Linked DNA regions of Homo sapiens. The protein of the gene in region 2 purifies or fractionates together with the protein of the main gene of each other region. This does not show direct contact. Each region holds a gene or a part of one and is shown on either strand. Other genes may lie near its edges. The genes, in order: TRIM22, PLEKHM1 and VPS33A.

The links.
Region 1: the proteins of PLEKHM1 (region 2) and TRIM22 purify together in Homo sapiens (affinity purification with western blotting; 2 studies listed by BioGRID). This does not show direct contact.
Region 3: the proteins of PLEKHM1 (region 2) and VPS33A purify together in Homo sapiens (affinity purification with western blotting; 3 studies listed by BioGRID and IntAct, with this or other methods). This does not show direct contact.

Annotation. Positions count from the first base shown.
Region 1 is NC_000011.10:5,706,790-5,711,484, reverse strand, and holds the end of TRIM22 (E3 ubiquitin-protein ligase TRIM22), read right to left. Parts: intron 3,313-4,695; coding exon 3,212-3,312; intron 2,909-3,211; coding exon 2,882-2,908; intron 2,433-2,881; coding exon 1,837-2,432; 3' UTR 622-1,836; downstream 1-621. UniProt on the Homo sapiens protein: Interferon-induced E3 ubiquitin ligase that plays important roles in innate and adaptive immunity.
Region 2 is NC_000017.11:45,473,633-45,480,753, reverse strand, and holds part of PLEKHM1 (pleckstrin homology domain-containing family M member 1), read left to right. Parts: intron 1-1,665; exon of another isoform or gene 1,666-1,712; intron 1,713-2,606; coding exon 2,607-2,854; intron 2,855-2,866; exon of another isoform or gene 2,867-3,116; intron 3,117-4,840; exon of another isoform or gene 4,841-4,866; intron 4,867-5,027; coding exon 5,028-5,654; intron 5,655-7,121. UniProt on the Homo sapiens protein: Acts as a multivalent adapter protein that regulates Rab7-dependent and HOPS complex-dependent fusion events in the endolysosomal system and couples autophagic and the endocytic trafficking pathways.
Region 3 is NC_000012.12:122,228,947-122,235,498, reverse strand, and holds the end of VPS33A (vacuolar protein sorting-associated protein 33A), read left to right. Parts: intron 1-2,530; coding exon 2,531-2,699; intron 2,700-3,071; coding exon 3,072-3,253; 3' UTR 3,254-5,935; downstream 5,936-6,552.

The DNA.
Region 1 (4,695 bases), on a different chromosome or scaffold from region 2:
GCTTGCCCTCCCCCAAGTTGCTGGACATCATCTAATCCATAAAGGATCTGAGTAGGAGAAAGGGTTGAGGAAGAAGATATTTGCTTCTTTTCCTGCCGCAGTACTTGAGCTGAGACATGTCACCTCATCTTTTTCTGCCTTTGTACTGGCATTTATACCATCAGCTCCCTGGTTCTTAGGGCTTCAGAGACACACTGACTTATATCACCAGCTTTTGGGTCTCTGGTTTCCAAATGGCAGATAATGGGAAGTCTTAGCCTCCATAATCAAGTAAGCCAATTCCTCATAATAAATACATATCTCTTATTGTTCTGTTTCTCTGGAGAACCCCGACTAATACAATATATTTCTTCAAGAATGTTTTGTGTCTTTGCTATCCTAGGTAGTTCTACTACTCATCCTGTGTTTGAAAAAAGACTTAAAAAAAAAAAAAAAGAAAAGTACCTAGGATGGTAAATGCAATGGTACACACAAGTGTTTCATTACGAGAAACAGATCTGAACAGCATAAGGCTGTCTCTTATCAAGGACAGCTGAGCCTAGACATGACCTTCTTTACTGGACATATGGAAACTCATATTATCTGCAGCAAGATTTTGGAAACTGAAGAATGAGACTTCAGTAGAGCCAGCTATTGTTTTATTGAAGCAAAAAGAAAACAGAACAAAAACAAAAAATTGTTTCCCAAGACATTGAAATGGCTGACATCTTTTCAGTAATAATCAGAACAATATTTATTTTTATATTTAAAATTCATAGAAAAGTGCCTTACATTTAATAAAAGTTTGTTTCTCAAAGTGATCAGAGGAATTAGATATAGTCTTGAACACCAATATTAATTTGAGGAAAATACACCAAAATACATTAAGTAAATTATTTAAGATCATAGAGCTTGTAAGTGAAAAGATAAAATTTGACCTCAGAAACTCTGAGCATTAAAAATCCACTATTAGCAAATAAATTACTATGGACTTCTTGCTTTAATTTTGTGATGAATATGGGGTGTCACTGGTAAACCAACACATTCTGAAGGATACATTACTTAGTGATAGATTCTTATGTACTTTGCTAGATAACGTGGATATGAGTTGACAAGTTTCTCTTTCTTCAATCTTTTAAGGGGCAGAGGAAATGAGGAAGAAAAGAAAAGGAATTACAGCAATACTGTTCTTTCTATAGGAAGGATTAGATATGTTTCCTTTGCAAATATAAAAAAAATAATAATGTTTACTACTAGTGAAACCAAGGTATTAGGAAAATAATGTACAAGCATCTCTTGCAAGAAAGGGTAAGATTGTTATGAGTGAAATCGTGCCTTCCTCAAATTTATATGTTGGAGTTTTTATTCCCAATACCTCCAAATATTATCTTATTTGGAAATAAGGTCTTTGTAGAGAATATAATGTTAAAATGATTTCATTAAGGCATTAGCGGTGGGCCCTGAGCCAGTATGACTGGTGTCTTAATAAAAAGGGAAAACTTGGGCACAGAGATGTACATAAAGACAATGTGAAGAGTCATAGGGACAAGATGCCTTCTACAAGCCAAGGAGAGAGGCATGGAACAGAGCCCTTCCTTGCAGACCTCAGAAAGAACCAACTCTGCTGGAATCTAGATTTGGGATTTCCAGCCCACAGTACGGCAATACAATTACAGTTTAAATCAGCAATCTATGATGCTTTGCTATGGAAGCCCTAGCAAATGAATACAAAGACATTCTAAGTAAAAGAAGGGGAAAGAAAGGAAGAGATGGTCTCAGTAGAGATGAACTCAGGTGCAGAATCTGAGTCTCAGCACAAGGGCTACTATGCAGAAGTGGGTAAAGGAATGAGAACACTCAGGAGCTCGGTGGGCACACAGTCATGGGGACTAGGCAGTTCCAAGGATTGAAATACGGATAAGCAGGTCGAGAAAAGCGACATCCAGAGAACTTGTAGATGAGTGCTCCGTGGTTTGTGACATTGAAAAATGAGACAATGCCTGCCTCATAGTCTAGGAAAACCCCAATACGACAGGGAGGCACAGCCATAAAGAGAGTCAAAACCTTGGGATCAGAAGAGGAGGAGTCCTCAAAAGCATTATATTCACATGTATTCTGTAATCCTATAACCCAGTAGCCATATTGAGGTCTATATCTGGAGTAAACTTTTGAATAATTTACACTTGGATCAAAAGCAAACCCAGAGCTCTTCCTTTTATTCAGACTACTTATTTTACTGTGTACGCCCAGGATCCAGGCAATCTTTCCAGACACATCTACTTCCCAGTAATATTTCCCCGAAGAGAAATATTGGCAGCCGAAGACACCAAAAGCAGAAAAATCACATGGATTTGAATTCTTAAATGTGCAGGTGCGTACAGTTTTCACTTGTCTCTGATCCACAGAAATAGCAACATTCGAAGTGGCACTGCCTGGATTCAGCATCACGTCCACTGTAGAAAAAATTACCAAGTCAAGTGAAGGATATGGGATAGGTGTGTCTTACAGCATTGAGAAGAGACATATTGAAAATGAAACTTGTGTCGATATCAAACGGAACTTGTGTTGATAGTCAGAGGTTAGTAGGACCCTTAAGAAATACAGGGTGTAAGACTATAAAAATTAGCCAAGCGTGGTGGCACACGCCTGTAATCCCAGCTACTTGGGAGGCTGAGGCAGCAGAATCGCTTGAACCCAGGAGGCAGAGGTTGCAGTGAGCCGAGACCGCGCCATTGCACTCCAGCCTGGGCAACAATAGCAAAAATCTATCTTAAAAAAAAAAAAAAAAAGAACTACATGGTTTAAGCATGTTTGGGGAGGAACACATGAGACTCAGATTATGAGATCTAATAGTAACCACAATTCTGAAAGGAAGTGATTTGAAAACCCCATATCATCTTACCCCAGTAGTACTGGACATCTGTCAGCTCTGAAACGACAAAAGTTTCAGTGATGTTGTTAGAAGCAAATAAGTAAGTACTGACACCTGTCTCTTCTCCAGAGTAGGGAAAGGAAAGGGGGAATACTGGGATTCTTTGCACTGGTGAATGAGAGGATGAATCAGACACCTGGTCATTCCCCCTAAGACAGGACCACATCTACAGCACAGGATTTTCCTCCTTCTCTGGCCCACCTCCTCTCCTATATCCTAACCTAAAAAAACCTCCCGCTTCCCTATTGAGCCCTGATACTAAGAAATCCACATTCACAGCCTTCCCCTGAATCCCCTTACCTTTAAGAACTTGCAGCATCCCACTCAGATCTGGTACTCGGAATACACTCTTTAGTTTCTTGGAAACAGATTTTGGCTTCTTCAATGTCCAGCTTTCACTCCTAGTGATAACAAAAATTGATAACCTTTACACCTTTGCCCTATTTCTCTCCATCCAAGATCACTGTCTCTTTCACCTTTCACCATACTTGCTGACGCACTTGGACCCTCTTCCCTGAGGACAGTAGAGGGGAGATGCCTGACACTGGAGTCCAGAGAAATGTGCTCATGTCTACCTGTCTGTGTGTAATCTTGGGAAGGTCTTCCCCTCTGTGTAATCTTGGGAAGGTCTTCACTTCAACGATGTTCGCTTTCTTACTTTTAAAATGCAATAATTAACCCCATGCTTTCTACCTCTTAAAAATGAATATAAAATTAGATAAAATAATAATGCTTTTGTTTGTTTGTTTGTTTGTTTGTTTTGAGATGGGGTCTCACTCTGTTATCCAGGCTGGAGTGTAGTGGCGCGACCTCGGCTCACTGCAACCTCTGCCTCCCAGGTTCAAGCCATTCTCCTGCCTCAGCCTCCCAAGTAGCTGGGATTACAGGTGCCTGCTACCACATCCAGCTAATTTTTTTGTACTTTTAGTAGAGACAGGGTTTCACCATGTTGGCCAGGCTGGTTTTGAACTTCTGACCTCAAGTGATCCGCCTGCCTCGGCTTCCCAAAGTGCTAGCATTGTAGGCGTGACCCACTGCACCCAGCCAATAATGCTTTTAAAAGATATTCAGTGCCTCTAAAAAACTTATTTAATATTTAGAAAAGTCATTGCCATCTCAGTGGGTCCACCAGGAAGAGGCCAGAGATGTGGGTTCCTAGACAGGTGGTCATTAAGGAGGCCATAGAATCTGTCTCCTGAGTTGTTGAGAGATATCAAAGTAGGATCCTATATTGAAGAGCTAAAGGGTTTCCAAAATCTGTTATCCCAATATGAGACCTAGAGAATAATGTCTGAGGTTTCAAGTTATTTGGGGAAAGACAAATTACGATGACTAAATTAATTAATAGTGGTCTGATTTTCATGTGTTTAAAAAAACTTTGATGTTGCCAAGTAGGTGGGCAACTTTAGACACAAGAATATTATTTTTTCCTACAAGACGGTAAAGTATGTGAGCAAGAAAAGGTTATGCTAGCACCAGGACCAAAGCCACTATTCCTCAAGACTTGAATCTATTTTTCTAGAAATCTAAAAAGCACCACCTAGAAAGTTATTGTTTATTTTATTCTCAGGGAGGAAAACAAACATAAAGGCGCTGTCTCTGAAAAATTTGGAGTCTGGCATATAAAAAGGGCAGAGCCTCACTGCAATAAGACAGGCATCTATGCAATATGGAAACAACAGAGACAGAGGTTTGAATAAAGTGAGTGAAGTCATGGGGTTCTGATATTGCAAACTCTTATTCCTAAGGCCTCCGTCGACCCTAACTCTGTGATCTCCCAACAC
Region 2 (7,121 bases):
AAGTCCTGATACATGCTACAACATGATGGAAAATATGCTAAGTGAAATAAGTCAGATTCAAAGGGTCATATGCTGTATTGATATCTATTCATGTGAGATGTACAAAATATGCAAAGCCACAGAAACAGAAAATAGATTAGTGACTGCATTCACTTCGTATTCCCCTTTCTCCCAGCCCCTGGCAATCACTAATATACAGTATTTCTTTTTGGGGTGATGAAAATCGTTTTTTTTGTTTGTTTTTTTGTTTTTTTGTTTTTTTGTTTTTTTGAGACGGAGTCTCCCTCTGCTGCCCAGGCTGGAGTGCAGTGGCACAATCTTGACTCACTACAAACTCCACCTCCCAGGTTCAAGTGATTCTCATGCCTCTGCCTCCCAAGTAGCTGGGATTATGGGTGTGCACCACCATGCCCGGCTAATTTTTGTATTTTTGGTAGAGATGGGGGTTTCACCATGTTGGCCAGGCTGGTCTCGAACTCCTGACCTCAGGTGATCCACTCGTCTTGGCCTCCCGAAGTGCTGGGATTATAGGCGTGAGCCACTGTGCCCGGCCAGAAAATCTTCTAAAATTAGGTAGTGGTGATGGTTGCACAATTGTGTGAATATACTAGAAACAATTGAACTGTATACTTTAAATGGGTGTATTTTATGGTATATGAATTATATCTCATTAAAACCGTTATATTTTTTCAAATTTAACTTTTCAAAGAATGTTAACATTTAGTGTTTTGGCTGAAATCAAAATAAAAGATTAAAATATGTAGCCATAATCCTATCACCCAACAATTCAAACCAGTTTTTCTGTAATCCCTTCCAGTCCTTTTCCAATCACTTATGTGATTTTCACATGCTTATAATTATGCTCAATTTTTACTCTATATTTCCAAAAGACTCTATGTACATTTTGTGGTGTATCATTTAACAAACATTTATTGAGTATTTCTATGTGCCAGGCACAGTGCCAAGTGTTGACACAAGGATGAATAAAACACTAGTCTTAGTGCCACACTCAGCTCTTTTATATATATGTTTTTTGTTTTGTTTTGTTTTGTTTTGTTTTGTTTTTCTGAGATGGAGTCTCACTCTGCCACCCAGGCTGGAATGCAGTGGCACGATTTTGGCTCAGTACAACCTCTGCCTCCTGGGTTTAAGTGATTCTCCTGCCTCAGCCTCCTAAGTAGCTGGGATTACAGGCACTCACCACCACACCTGGCTATTTTTTTTTTTTTTTTTTTTGAGGCGGAGTCTCGCTCTGTCGCCCAGGCTGGAGTGCAGTGGTGCGATCTTGGCTCACTGGAAACTCCGCCTCCTGAGTTCACGCCATTCTCCTGCCTCAGCCTCCCGCGTAGCTGGGACTACAGGCGCTGCCACCACGCCCAGCTATTTTTTTGCATTTTTAGTAGAGATGGGGTTTCAGCCTGTTATCCAGGATGGTCTCGATCTTCTGACCTCGTGATCCGCCCACCTCGGCCTCCCAAAGTGCTGGGGTTACAGGCGTGAGCCACCGTGCCCGGCCCACACCTGGCTAATTTTTGCATTTTTAGTAGAGACAGGGTTTCATCATGTTTGCCAGGCTGATCTCAAACTCCTAACCTCAAGTGATCCGCCTGCCTTGGCCTCCCAAAGTGTTGGGATTACAGGTGTGAGCCACCACACCCAGCCTCTTTTTAGAATTTATCTAGTAGGTTTTCTGGTTTTCACCAGAAACCACTTCCCAAAAAAAAAAAGAAAAAAAAAGGTAGTCCTGTCCTCAGGAGAATCCTCATAGTACTATAAATCAGAAAGTATTATTTCCACTTTAACAGATAAGGAAATTGAGGCTCAAAGCGGTTAAGTGGAATGTCTGAGGAGGCCCATCTGGTTACTGGCAGCTAGGACTGAGCCTAGTCCTCTGGCTTCCAGGCCTAGGATCTTTCTTTTTTTGAGACAAGGTCTTGCTATGTTGCCCAGGCTGGAGTACAGTGGTGTGATCACAGCTCACTGCAGCCTTGAACTCCTGGACTCAAGCAGTCCTCCTGCCTCTGACCTCCCAAAGTTCTGGGATTACAGGTTTGAGCCACCACGCCCAGCCTAGGATCTTTCTTAAAGTAAACCATGCTCCTGTTCTCCTCATGTTTTTATTGTTCTAAAGCAGTGTGGGTGTTTATTGTTTGTTTGTTTTTGCCTCTTGGCTTATTGATTCTCTACAGAAGCTTGTCCATGTAAAAAAGGTGGGAAGCCCCACCCTTGTCCTAGATGGATTTACCCAAGCTCCCATCACTGCAGCTATGATGGGGCCAATATTTAAACACAAGATTATATGGCTCTAAGTTCACTTAAGTTTGGTCTAAAAAACAAAAAGTATCTATACTAAAGGACATATGAAACAAACAATAACAGTAATTATCTCTGGGTAGTGTGTGTGATTTTCCTTTTCTTCTCTATGCTTTATCTTTCTTTGCTGTAGTTAACAATGTGCTAATTTTGCAGAAGGAATCTACAGACACACACATAGATGTGTGTGCATGTGGTTGCACACGTATTTGGCACCAGCTAAAGGATTACACTCTAGGGACTCTCCATAGGATTTTCCGCTAAAGGCCTGTGTTCTGTGTGGTGCTGCCTAGGTCATCAAGAAGAAGCTGGTGGGATCCGTGAAGGCCTTGCAGAAGCAGTACGTGTCCCTGGACACGGTGGTCACTAGTGAAGACGGAGATGCCAACACCATGTGCAGCGCCCTGGAGGCCGTATTTATCCATGGCCTGCACGCCAAGCACATCCGAGCTGAGGCCGGAGGAAAAAGGAAGAAAAGTGCCCACCAGAAGCCTCTGCCCCAGCCTGTCTTCTGGCCCCTCCTGAAAGCTGTCACCCACAAGTGAGATTTAGCTGGAGAGGTTTTGCTTTGCGGAGGAGCAGCAGACTATGGGACACTTGGCTTTTCCTCCCCAGCTGTTCAGGAAGCCAACAGAGGTGCCCTGTGTTCTAGCATAGAGAGAGGGTGAGGTAGGGGTTGAAAGTGTCTTCTAGAAAGGCTTATCTCTAGACCAAGCTTCCCAGCCAGTGTGCCAGCAGATCTTGAGACCCTCAGCACTCAGGCAAGAGCCTGTGGCTGCTTTGAGACTGGTCACAAAAAGCAGGTGAGACTGGCCACCTTTAGCAGGAACAGCCTTTTTTGCCACACTGGGGCAGAGTTACATAGTTACAACAGAGGTTGTGTGGCCTGCAAAGCCTGAAGAATATACTATCTGGCCCTTTACAGAAGGGCTGACCCTGCCTTGGATTTGCTGACCCTGCCTTAGATTATTCAAACATCCGAATTGTAAATCTTTTTTTTTTTTTTTGGGATGGAGTTTCGCTCTGTCACTCAGGCTGGAGTGCAATGGCGCGATCTCGGTTCACTGGCACCTCTGCTTCCCAGGTTCAAGCAATTCTCCTGCCTCAGCCTCCTGAGTAACTGGGACAACAGGCGCGCACCATCACGCCCAGCTAATTTTTGTATTTTTAGTAGAGAGGGGTTTTGCTATGTTGGTCAGGCTGCTCTCAAACTCCTGACCTTGTGATCTGCCTACCTCCGCCTCCCAAAGTGCTGGGATTATATAAAGAGTGGAATCAGGAAAAGCATATGAATATTCACCCTGAGACACTTATCTCTTTGGCCCCTAACTGTCTGGGCTTTTGAGCAAGTAGCTGGCACTGTGCCTCTGAGGACTACTAAATGCCACCTTCAGCCCAAAAGAAGCCTTGTCAGTCTCTAATCTTCCTTTCCATGCAGATTGCCACTGCCTTGTCTCACGTTCTTCTTTCCTGGGTGACACTGGCTTTCTATTTGTCCCCCTTATCTCACTCTGTCTTTCCTTGAGTCCATCATCTGGTCAACATTTACTGAGCTGAAGCTCCCTGGAGCTTACTCACTGAGCCTAGTAGAGTGCGGTCTACATTCCCATGGAGGAGATAAACCTGCGCTAGGGACTGTGGTAGCTCAGAGGGGCATGTACATCAGACGGAGGCATTCTGGGACTGAGTTTGGTACACCTGGGGTCTGATCTCCTTATGCAGAACATCTACCCTGCAGTCTGCATGACTGTGGTCAAGTCACTTTTCTAAACAAAAATCTGTAGCCTACAGGCTCCCAGATGCTAGCCTGGAGACTGATTCACTAGGTTGGGGTCCCAGAACTTGTATCCTGCTCAAGTTCCCCAGGGGGTTCTGGTGCACAGCTGGGTGTGGGGCCATTACCCCGTGTTGCCTTATTGATTTGATATTTAAGACCCTCTCTTTCCTGGCCTTGCAACCAAACCACCCACTTTTCCGCCACATGCTGTAATTGGAGCGCTCCCCAATCCTCTTACAGGGTTGTTGATTTCCTACACTTTATGCCTTTTTCCATCAGTCCCTTGTGCCTGAGGGCAGGGACCATGTCTTTACCCTGCATCTTCATTGCTCCAAGGACTTTGCACTTAAGGAGCTCTGACAGCATGCCTTAGATGAGCAGATGTGTCAGGGGCCCCGTGGTAGTTGGAATGAACATGGAAATTATCTTTCACAATTCCAATCTCAAAATATATATATATATATAATGTATAAATATATATAATTTATATTTATATATTTATTATATATAAATATAAATATATATATATATATTGCCTAGGCTGGAGTGCAGTGGTCCAATCTCCGCTCACTGTGACCTTTGCTTCCCAGGCTCAAGCTATCCTTCCACCTCAACCTCCCGAGTAGCTGGGTAGCTGGGACTACACGTGCAAGCCACCACATCTGGCTATGTTGTTGTTGTAGAGACAGAGTTTCGTCCTGTTGCCCAGGCTGGTCACGAATTCCTGAGCTCAAGTGATCCACCTGCCTTGGCCTCCCAAAGTGCTGGGATTACAGGTGTGAGCCACCACATCTGGCCTAAAACACTATTACCCAATATTTTTTCATGCCTGTATCTATTTGCAGTAGTTATTCCTGGTTCCTGCTAACCAGTGGATAAAAGCACATCTCTGTGATTTGGGGTAGTTTCTTGAAACACGTCTGTTCTCCCTTCCCAGACACATCATCTCAGAGTTGGAGCACCTGACGTTTGTCAACACGGATGTGGGCCGCTGCCGGGCATGGCTGCGGCTGGCCCTGAACGATGGCCTGATGGAGTGCTACCTGAAGCTGCTGCTGCAGGAGCAGGCCCGCTTGCATGAGTACTACCAGCCCACCGCCCTGCTCCGGGATGCTGAGGAGGGCGAGTTCCTCCTTAGCTTCCTGCAGGGCCTCACGTCCTTGTCCTTCGAACTCTCCTACAAGTCTGCCATCTTAAATGAGTGGACGCTCACCCCATTGGCCCTGTCTGGGCTTTGCCCGCTTTCTGAGCTGGACCCTCTCTCTACCTCTGGTGCAGAACTACAGCGGAAGGAATCTCTGGATTCCATTTCCCATTCTTCAGGCTCTGAAGACATCGAAGTCCATCACTCGGGCCATAAGATACGGAGGAACCAGAAGCTGACTGCCTCCTCCCTCAGCCTGGACACGGCCAGTTCATCCCAGCTGTCCTGCAGCCTAAACTCTGATAGCTGCTTACTCCAAGAGAATGGCTCCAAGAGTCCAGACCATTGCGAGGAGCCCATGTCCTGTGACTCAGACCTGGGCACAGCAAATGCTGAGGACTCAGACCGGTCTCTGCAAGAGTGAGTACGCTGCCCCCACTCCTTCCCATCTTCTCTCTTCCCTCCTTTCTTTCCTCTCCTCCTCCCTTTCTTCCCATAGCATGTGATTGTCTGTTACTGAACTCTATTAGTAATTAAAGAAAGCCAAGGGAGTCATCGACTTCTCCAGGGACTGGAGTAGCTGGGAACTGTAGCAGGCAATACAGGCATAGTGGAGAAAGTGGACTTAGAACAGCTTAGAGCTGGTTTGGGCTCCAGCTCTGCCCCGGTGACTTTTAGCAAGTTACTTGGCCGGGTGCGGTGGCTCATGCCTGAAATCCCAGCACTTGGGAGGCTGATACAGGAGGATTGCTTGAGCCCAGCAGTTCGAGGCCAGCCTGGGCAATGTAGCAAGATCCTGCCTCTAAATTAAAAATAAATAAATAAATAAAACAAAAACTGAAAACAAACAATAACAACAAAAAAACAAGATACTTAGTCTCTACAAGGCACAGTGTAAAATATTGTTGTCTTCATCTAGAAGGAAGGAAACTAATAGGTCAGAGTACATTTAAAACGTCCAACAAATAGATGAAACATAACGCATAAGAGTGTGACTTCACAGAATACCTCCTGGGGGACACAGGACCTGAGTGCTGCATGCAGGAGGTGGTGGACAGGTGGGGACAGACAGATGTGTGGAAGAGTATGTGGGGCAGATGAACTAGGCTGAAGAGAGAACTGGGCAGAGCCTTCTTCACACAGCCTTTTAAACATTTTTTTGCAGCTGGGCACGGTGGCTCACGCCTGTAATCCCAGCACCTTGGGAGGCCAAGGCAGGTGGATCACAAGGTCAGGAGATTGAGACCATCCTGACTAACATGGTGAAACCCCGTCTCTACTAAAAATACAAAAAATTAGCTGGGCATGGTGGCGGGCGCCTTGTAGTCCCAGCTACATGGGCGGCTGAGGCAGGAGAATGGCATGAACCCGGGAGGTGGAGCTTGCAGTGAGCTGAGACCGCACCACTGCACTCCAGCCTGGGTGACAGAGTAAGACTCTGTCTCAAAAAAAAAAAATAAATAAATAAATAAAATAAAAAATTTGCATAGATAATCTTTTTATGGTTAAAAAAAATCTAAAACATATACAGTGAAAGCCTTTCCCATTCCTGTTCTCCCTCTACCCTGTTCTTTCCTCCCACCCCTAAAACCATAATAATTTCCTGTATATTCTTCCAAATTTCTAAATGCATCTACAACAAATACCAGTATAAAGATTTTCAGCTGGGCGCAGTGGCTCACGCCTGTAATCCCAGCACTTTGGGAGGCCGAGGCGGGCGGATCACAAAGGCAAGAGATCGAGACCTTTCTGGCTAACACGGTGAAACCCCATCTCTACTAAAAATACAAAAAATTAGCCGGGCGTGGTGGCGGGCGCCTGAAGTCCCAGCTACTCAGGAGGCTGAGGCAGGAGAATGGTGTGGACCCAGGAGGCGGAGCTTGCAGT
Region 3 (6,552 bases), on a different chromosome or scaffold from region 2:
TGAGCTCAGGAGTTTGAGAACAGCCTGACTAACATGGGAAACCCCATCTCTACTAAAAATACAAAAATTAGCCCAGCATTGTGGTGCGTGCCTGTAATCCCATCTACTTGGGGGGCTGAGGCAGGAGAATTGCTTGAACCTGGGAGGCGGAGGTTGTAGTGAGCTCAGATCATGCCATTGCACTCCAGCCTGGGCGACAGAGCAAGACTCTGTCTCAAAAAAAAAAAAAAAAAAGTTATGGGGCAGGCTCGGTGGCTCATTCTTGTAATCCCAGTATATTGGGAGGCTGAAGGGTCAGATCGCTTGAGTCCAGGAGTTCGAGACCAGCCTGGGCAACATGGCAAAACCTTGTCTCTACAAAAAAAATGGCCAGTGGTAGTATGAGCCTTTAGTCCGAGGGGCTGTGGTTAGAGGATCACTGAGCCCAGGAGGCGGTTGCAGTGAACCATGTTTGTGCCACTGCACTCCAGGCTGGGCTACACAGTAAGACTCTGTCTCAAATAAATAAAGATGTGGGAAGAGTGGAGAGGCAGTGCAGTGGGGAGCCCTTGCCAGCCACGGCCTGAAGGACAAGGAGAGGGGGGTGTTCTAGAAACTTGTCTTAGAACCTGGAGAGAAGAGCTGTGGTGAGGCCATCTGGTGAGGTAAGGGGTGAGGGGCCTCTGGCTGAGGGTATGGTCAACCTCCAGCAGAGGAAGCTGGCCAGTGACAACGTCATCCTCACACTGCTGCCCACTCTCCAGTTCACTCTGGTGCTTTGTCTTGGTCAGACCCAAAGAGAAGGCATTGGAGTGTGTTGGTGTGGGACGCACAGGTCCATCTCCGGGCACAGAGCATTGCGGAGAAGGGTGGAGAGTGTCTAGAGGAGTCAGTGGAGATGTCCAGCACTCATAAACAAGCCAGCCATGGCCAGGCGCGGTGGCTCACACCTGTAATTCCAGCACTTTGGGAGGCCAAGGCAGGAGGATCACTTGAGGTCAGGAGTTCAAGACCAGCCTGGCCAACATGGTGAAACCCTGTCTCTACTAAAAAATACAAAAGTGATCAGGGCATGGTGGAGCATGCATCTGTAGGCCCAGCTACTGTACTCAGAAGGCTGAGGTGGGAGCCTCCCAGGAGGCTGAGCCTGGGAGGTTGAGGCTACAGTGAGCTGAGATTGCACTGCTGCACTCCAGCATGGGCGACAGAATGAGACCCTATCTCAAAAAGAAAAAGAAAAAGGGAAAAAAAAAGCTATGCAAAAGCAGGGCCATCAGGGCCAAGTGAGTTTCCTTCCACAGTTTCCCCTCAGAGGCAGCCACTGTGGCCAGTTTTTTATCTATCCTTCCAGAAAGATTCTGTGCATATACATTTTTACATAAAGAGTGCATATTCTCTACTGTTGGTCTCCAAAGTGGGGTGCACTTTGCTTTACATTTATTACTTATTCTAATGTTTCTAAATTTCAGTCTTTTTTGGTTTTTCATAAGGAACTTTATTAGGCCGCCTCTTGCAACAAAAGCTCATAACTAGACAGTCTCCTCTGTCAGGAGCAAAATTAAATGATTTTTTCCCGGTGGGAAAATAGAGACCCTTAATGTCTAGAGTCTATCATGTACATATTAGTTCAGCTGTCTTCACTGTTCTGACCTTTCTGACTCTGGACCCACCCACCACTTAACAAAGGATCTTGAAGGGTCTTCTGTGATCTTCCCCTTCTTTTTAATTTTTCTAAATTGCTACATAGTGGTTTTGAGGCTATACCTTATTTAATGATTTAACAGATTGCTATTGATAGAAATTCAGGTTGTTTCCAGTCTTTACTGTTACATGCAGTGTTGCAGTTAATACGTTTATACTTTGGTCTATTATCTTTTGTTCTGCAAGCACCTCTGTAGGATTAATGCCTAAAAGTAGAATTGCTAAGTTCAAAGGTTATTGCACATCATTGCTCAGCTAGGGAGTGCCAAGTTCCCCCCAATATGTTTCATGCTGGCTGGACGCGGTGGCTCAGGCCTGTAATCCCAACACTTTGGGAGGCCGAGGCAGGTGGATCACCTGAGGTCAGAAATTCAAGACCAGCCTGGCCAACATGGTGAAACCCTGTCTCTACTAAAAATACAACAATGAGCCAGGAGTGGTGGTGCACACCTGTAATCCCAGCTCTTTGGGAGCCTGAGGCAGGAGAATTGCTTGAACTAGGGAGGCGGAGGTTGCAGTGAGCTGAAATTATGCCACTGCACTCCAGCCTGGGTGACAGAGCCAGACTCTGTCTCAAAAAAAAAAAAAAAGTTTCATGCCAAACCAAATAATTCTTCATCTTCTGTACCTAGAGCTGCTTTGAGTGGCTTTTCAAGATTTCAGTCAAAATTGAAGCTCTGGCTGCTAAAAATTGAGCCCAGCTAGGGTGGATTAGAACAAGGCATGGCAGGGGTGGGGGTTGTATATCTTTAAATCCAAATCAAATAATTTTGGATTACCCAAAAGGCCACAGTCAGGTAGCTCTAAGTCTCTGTATCTATAGGGTTTTTGTTCTTTAATTATCTCACAGAACCCCACGGACATATCGTATGTGTACAGTGGGTATGCCCCGCTCAGTGTGCGGCTGGCCCAGCTGCTTTCCCGGCCTGGCTGGCGGAGCATCGAGGAGGTCCTCCGCATCCTCCCAGGGCCCCACTTTGAGGAGCGGCAGCCACTGCCCACAGGACTGCAGAAGAAACGTAAGTCCCAGTCCAGCATCTACAGATAATTATGTACTGTTAGTGTGGTTTTCAGGTATTGTACAGTTGCTTTGTAAAATAGTAAAGCACTTAGGAGTCAGAATTAAATACACCTCTTTTGTTCGTTGCTAATGTATGTAGTAAGAACTCGAATCGGATTATTCCCTGAGGGATAGCAGCTTTCAACTTCTGTGTTGAGAATCTCAGAAGTTAAAAAAAAATGTTGAGATCAAAATCAGTATTCTTAGGTTTCAGATGAACTGTCTGGATGAAGGCACTTGTTTATTCTTATGAATGATAAAATGTTTGAAGAGGTGGGAAGAGAAGCATTAATAATAAATAGTTTTTAATTCTGAAATGTTTAAATTTTAGGTCAACCGGGAGAAAACCGAGTGACTCTGATATTTTTCCTTGGGGGCGTAACCTTCGCTGAAATTGCTGCCCTGCGATTTCTCTCCCAGTTGGAAGATGGAGGTACAGAATATGTCATTGCCACCACTAAACTAATGAATGGAACCAGTTGGATAGAGGCTCTGATGGAAAAACCTTTCTAGGATGTTCAGAGGAGACTTAACAAGTGTACTGCAGAATAAACTACCTCTTTGAAGAAATTGCTGAAAGGAAGTAAAACCCCATAGAAGAAACATGGGAATACAGAATATATTCTGGGGTCAGCTTCTTAAATTATACTACTGTTTACTGCTTTCTCCGTCTCTTTTGTATTCCCTTTTTTTTTTTCCTTTGAGACGGAGTCTTGCTCTGTCACCCAGACTAGAGTGCAGTGGCACGGTCTCACCTCACTGCAACCTCCACCTCCTAGGTTCAAGCAATTCTCCTGCCTCAGCCTCCTGAGTAGCTGGGACTACAGGCATGCACCACCACACCCGGCTAATTTTTGTATTTTTAGTAGCCATGGTGTTTCACCATGTTGGCCAGGCTGGTCTCAAACTCCTGACCTCAGGTGATCCACCTGCCTCGGCCTCCCACAGTGCTGGGATTACAGGCCTGAGCCACCGTGCCTGGCCCCTAATCTGCTGAAGAAAGAAGAATAGAAGAAAATCAACCTGAGTAAAAGCAGCACTGGTTTTGAGTTTTCTAAGCTCAGGGTCTTCATTAGAGACCTCTGGAAATACATTAAGGATGGTGGGGGTAGATAATCCATTCAGCCAGACAAACGGGGCCAGCTCTTAAAATAAGAAAGCTGAGACTGAGGAGGTGAAACTGAAAATAAAAAGAGAAAGTTCATCCTCTAATCCCCAGTGCTGTATTTCTTCAAGGCGCATCAGGCCTAGGACAGTGGTTAAGTGTTGGGAGCTGGAGATCATTTTATCACTGAGTTGAGATTTCTTTTTCCTGCAGAGTGTGGGAGATTATATTTAGGGTCATCAGTCACTGTCGCAACTGATCACTAAGGCAAGTTTGCTTCCTTCTACTTCTTACAAAGCAAGAGGTTTAGGGGAGCTTCTTGCCCAGAAACAAAGTTTATGCTCTATGTGATCAGCTACATCTCCTTAGGTTCCATACTTATCAGGGGCTTTTGACATGGAAGAATGTGATAATTGGGGAGCAACCTTCTGAGAATTCAGCCTTTGAAGTAATTCAAAGACAGTTTCTTAGCACACACGTTAACTCCAGACACAGCAGTGGTGGGTGCCTCCATTGAGGTTTCCGTTTTCTCTTCTGTCCATCAAGGGCCCAACATCCAACTGGTCCCACAGTGAGCAGGGGCAACTCTTGCTTCTTCAGCATCTGGCCACTTCGTTTCCATGGTAACTGCCACGTGTACTTTTCTAGCAGTCTGTGGCCACTCCGTACTCAGCTGAAAACACTGTTTCAGCCCCCTCTCTGGTGACCTCAGCCTTCTCCAGGTGTATCTCTTGATGATCTTGGAGACCAGCAGCCACAGCTGCTGCTACTCCTGCAGGAGACTGTCAGGCTGTGGTGGGGGGCAGGGGTGTTGGAGGAGAAGTTGAAAATCCGTGTGTTCTCTGCCCCTCTGCTCCTCCATCTTAGCTTCTGGAGGAGTTAAGGCACCAAGGGCACCAAGTCAGGTTGGCAGTTTTGCTGCCCTTGCCCAAGCCTCCAGCAAAACTAGCTGGTCCCCTGCTTTGCTGGGTCCCAGCCAGGTGTGATTTTGGTTGTTGATTAGTAACCACACATTGTTTTTCCCCACCTTTTTCATTAGTGGAGGTTTTTGTTTTGTTTTGTTTTTGTTTGTTTGAGACAGAGTCTCACGCTCTTTTCAGACTGGAGTGCAGTGGTGCGATGTCAGCTCACTGCAACCTCCACTTCCCGGGTTCAGACGATTCTCATGCCTCAGCCTCCTGAGTAGCTGGGATTACAGATGTGCACCACCACACCTGGCTAATTTTTGTATTTTTAGTAGAGATGGGGTTTCACCATATTGGCCAGGCTGGTCTCAAACTCCTGACCTCAGGCGATTGGCCCACCTCGGCCTCCCAAAGTGCTGGGATTACAGGTGTGAACCACCGTGCCCGGCCCATTAGTGGAGTTCTGATGGGCACGGTAAATATTATTAATGAAAGAGAAATTCTGTATACTTTTTTAAAAATCTCTTTAATGAAAGAATGAAGAGTGGCAGAGATAATAATTGAAAGATTAGTTTCTCATGGAATTAATTTGGCCTTGATATTCAGTATTTGGAAATGTCTTAAAGAAAACCATTTTCATTGTAGAAAATCCTTTTTTAAATACTTGTTATATCCCAGGGAGATTAGTTTATACCTTCCACCTCAGGCAGTCATCAGCTGCTTTAGAGAATGGAATCCACCCTGCCCCTCCATTTTTTGGTTCCTGGGGCTCAATTCAAGTCTGGTCAAGTCTCCCTGGCTGGGGATTCTGTCCTGGGAACAGATACTCAGTTGTAGTCTCATGTGTCTGCACTCACCCAAGACTCTATATACTTGCTTGCTCAGAGCATAGTTAGGGCAGCTCCTAAAAATGCATTCAGCAGAAGACTGAAAAACTTCAATTGCTTCATTTGTATGCAAATAGAAAATGGTAGATAATTATATATTATACGCCTTTGTGTAAGTTCATTTAATACTTGAAGCAGTCTTTGTCTCAAAAGAGTATGCCCTTACTGAGAAAGGATATGTGAACGGTACATTTATTGTTGGGGAGAGTGGATTGTTTACATCATGTCTGGACTTTTGTCTAGTTGGGTAGACAGTTCTACACCAGCAGCCCCCTTAATAAAGAAGTCTACACAGACACTGTTTTGTGTCTTGCTATAGAGTGTTGAATTCTAACCAACAGAGAATTAAGTATTTTGTTAATTGTGGAGCAAAAGAGTAATGGTTGAAAGAGGGATGATTTAAAACAGCACATTTAATTCTCAGAGAAAACTGGGACAGTCTCATTGTGAGTTCTATTCGATTCAGATCTGCCCTCACTGCAAATGGATTATGATTAAGCATGATGTGTTGGTCGGTCTTGTTCTCAGTTGTACACTAAAGACCAGCCTGTCACCAGGAGGAAGTGTTTGTATTGAGCAGAGTTTAATTCAAGAAGAAATTATTTTTTTGAGATGAGGTCTTATTCTGTTGCCCAGGCTGGAGTGCAGTGGCACAATCATAGCTCACCACAGCCTTGAACTTCTGGGCTCAAGCAGTCCTCCTGCCTCAGTCTCACGAGTAGCTGGGACTATAGCAAAGCACCACCACACCCAGCAATTTTTTTTTCTTCCTTTTAGAGACAGGGTCTTTGTTGCTCAAACTCCTGGCCTCAAGAGAAATAATTCTTTTTTTCTTTTTCATTAAATTTATTATCTTTTTAATTTTCTGTTGGCTAGGGTGGTCTCGAACTCCTAGCTTTAAGCAGCCCTCCTGCC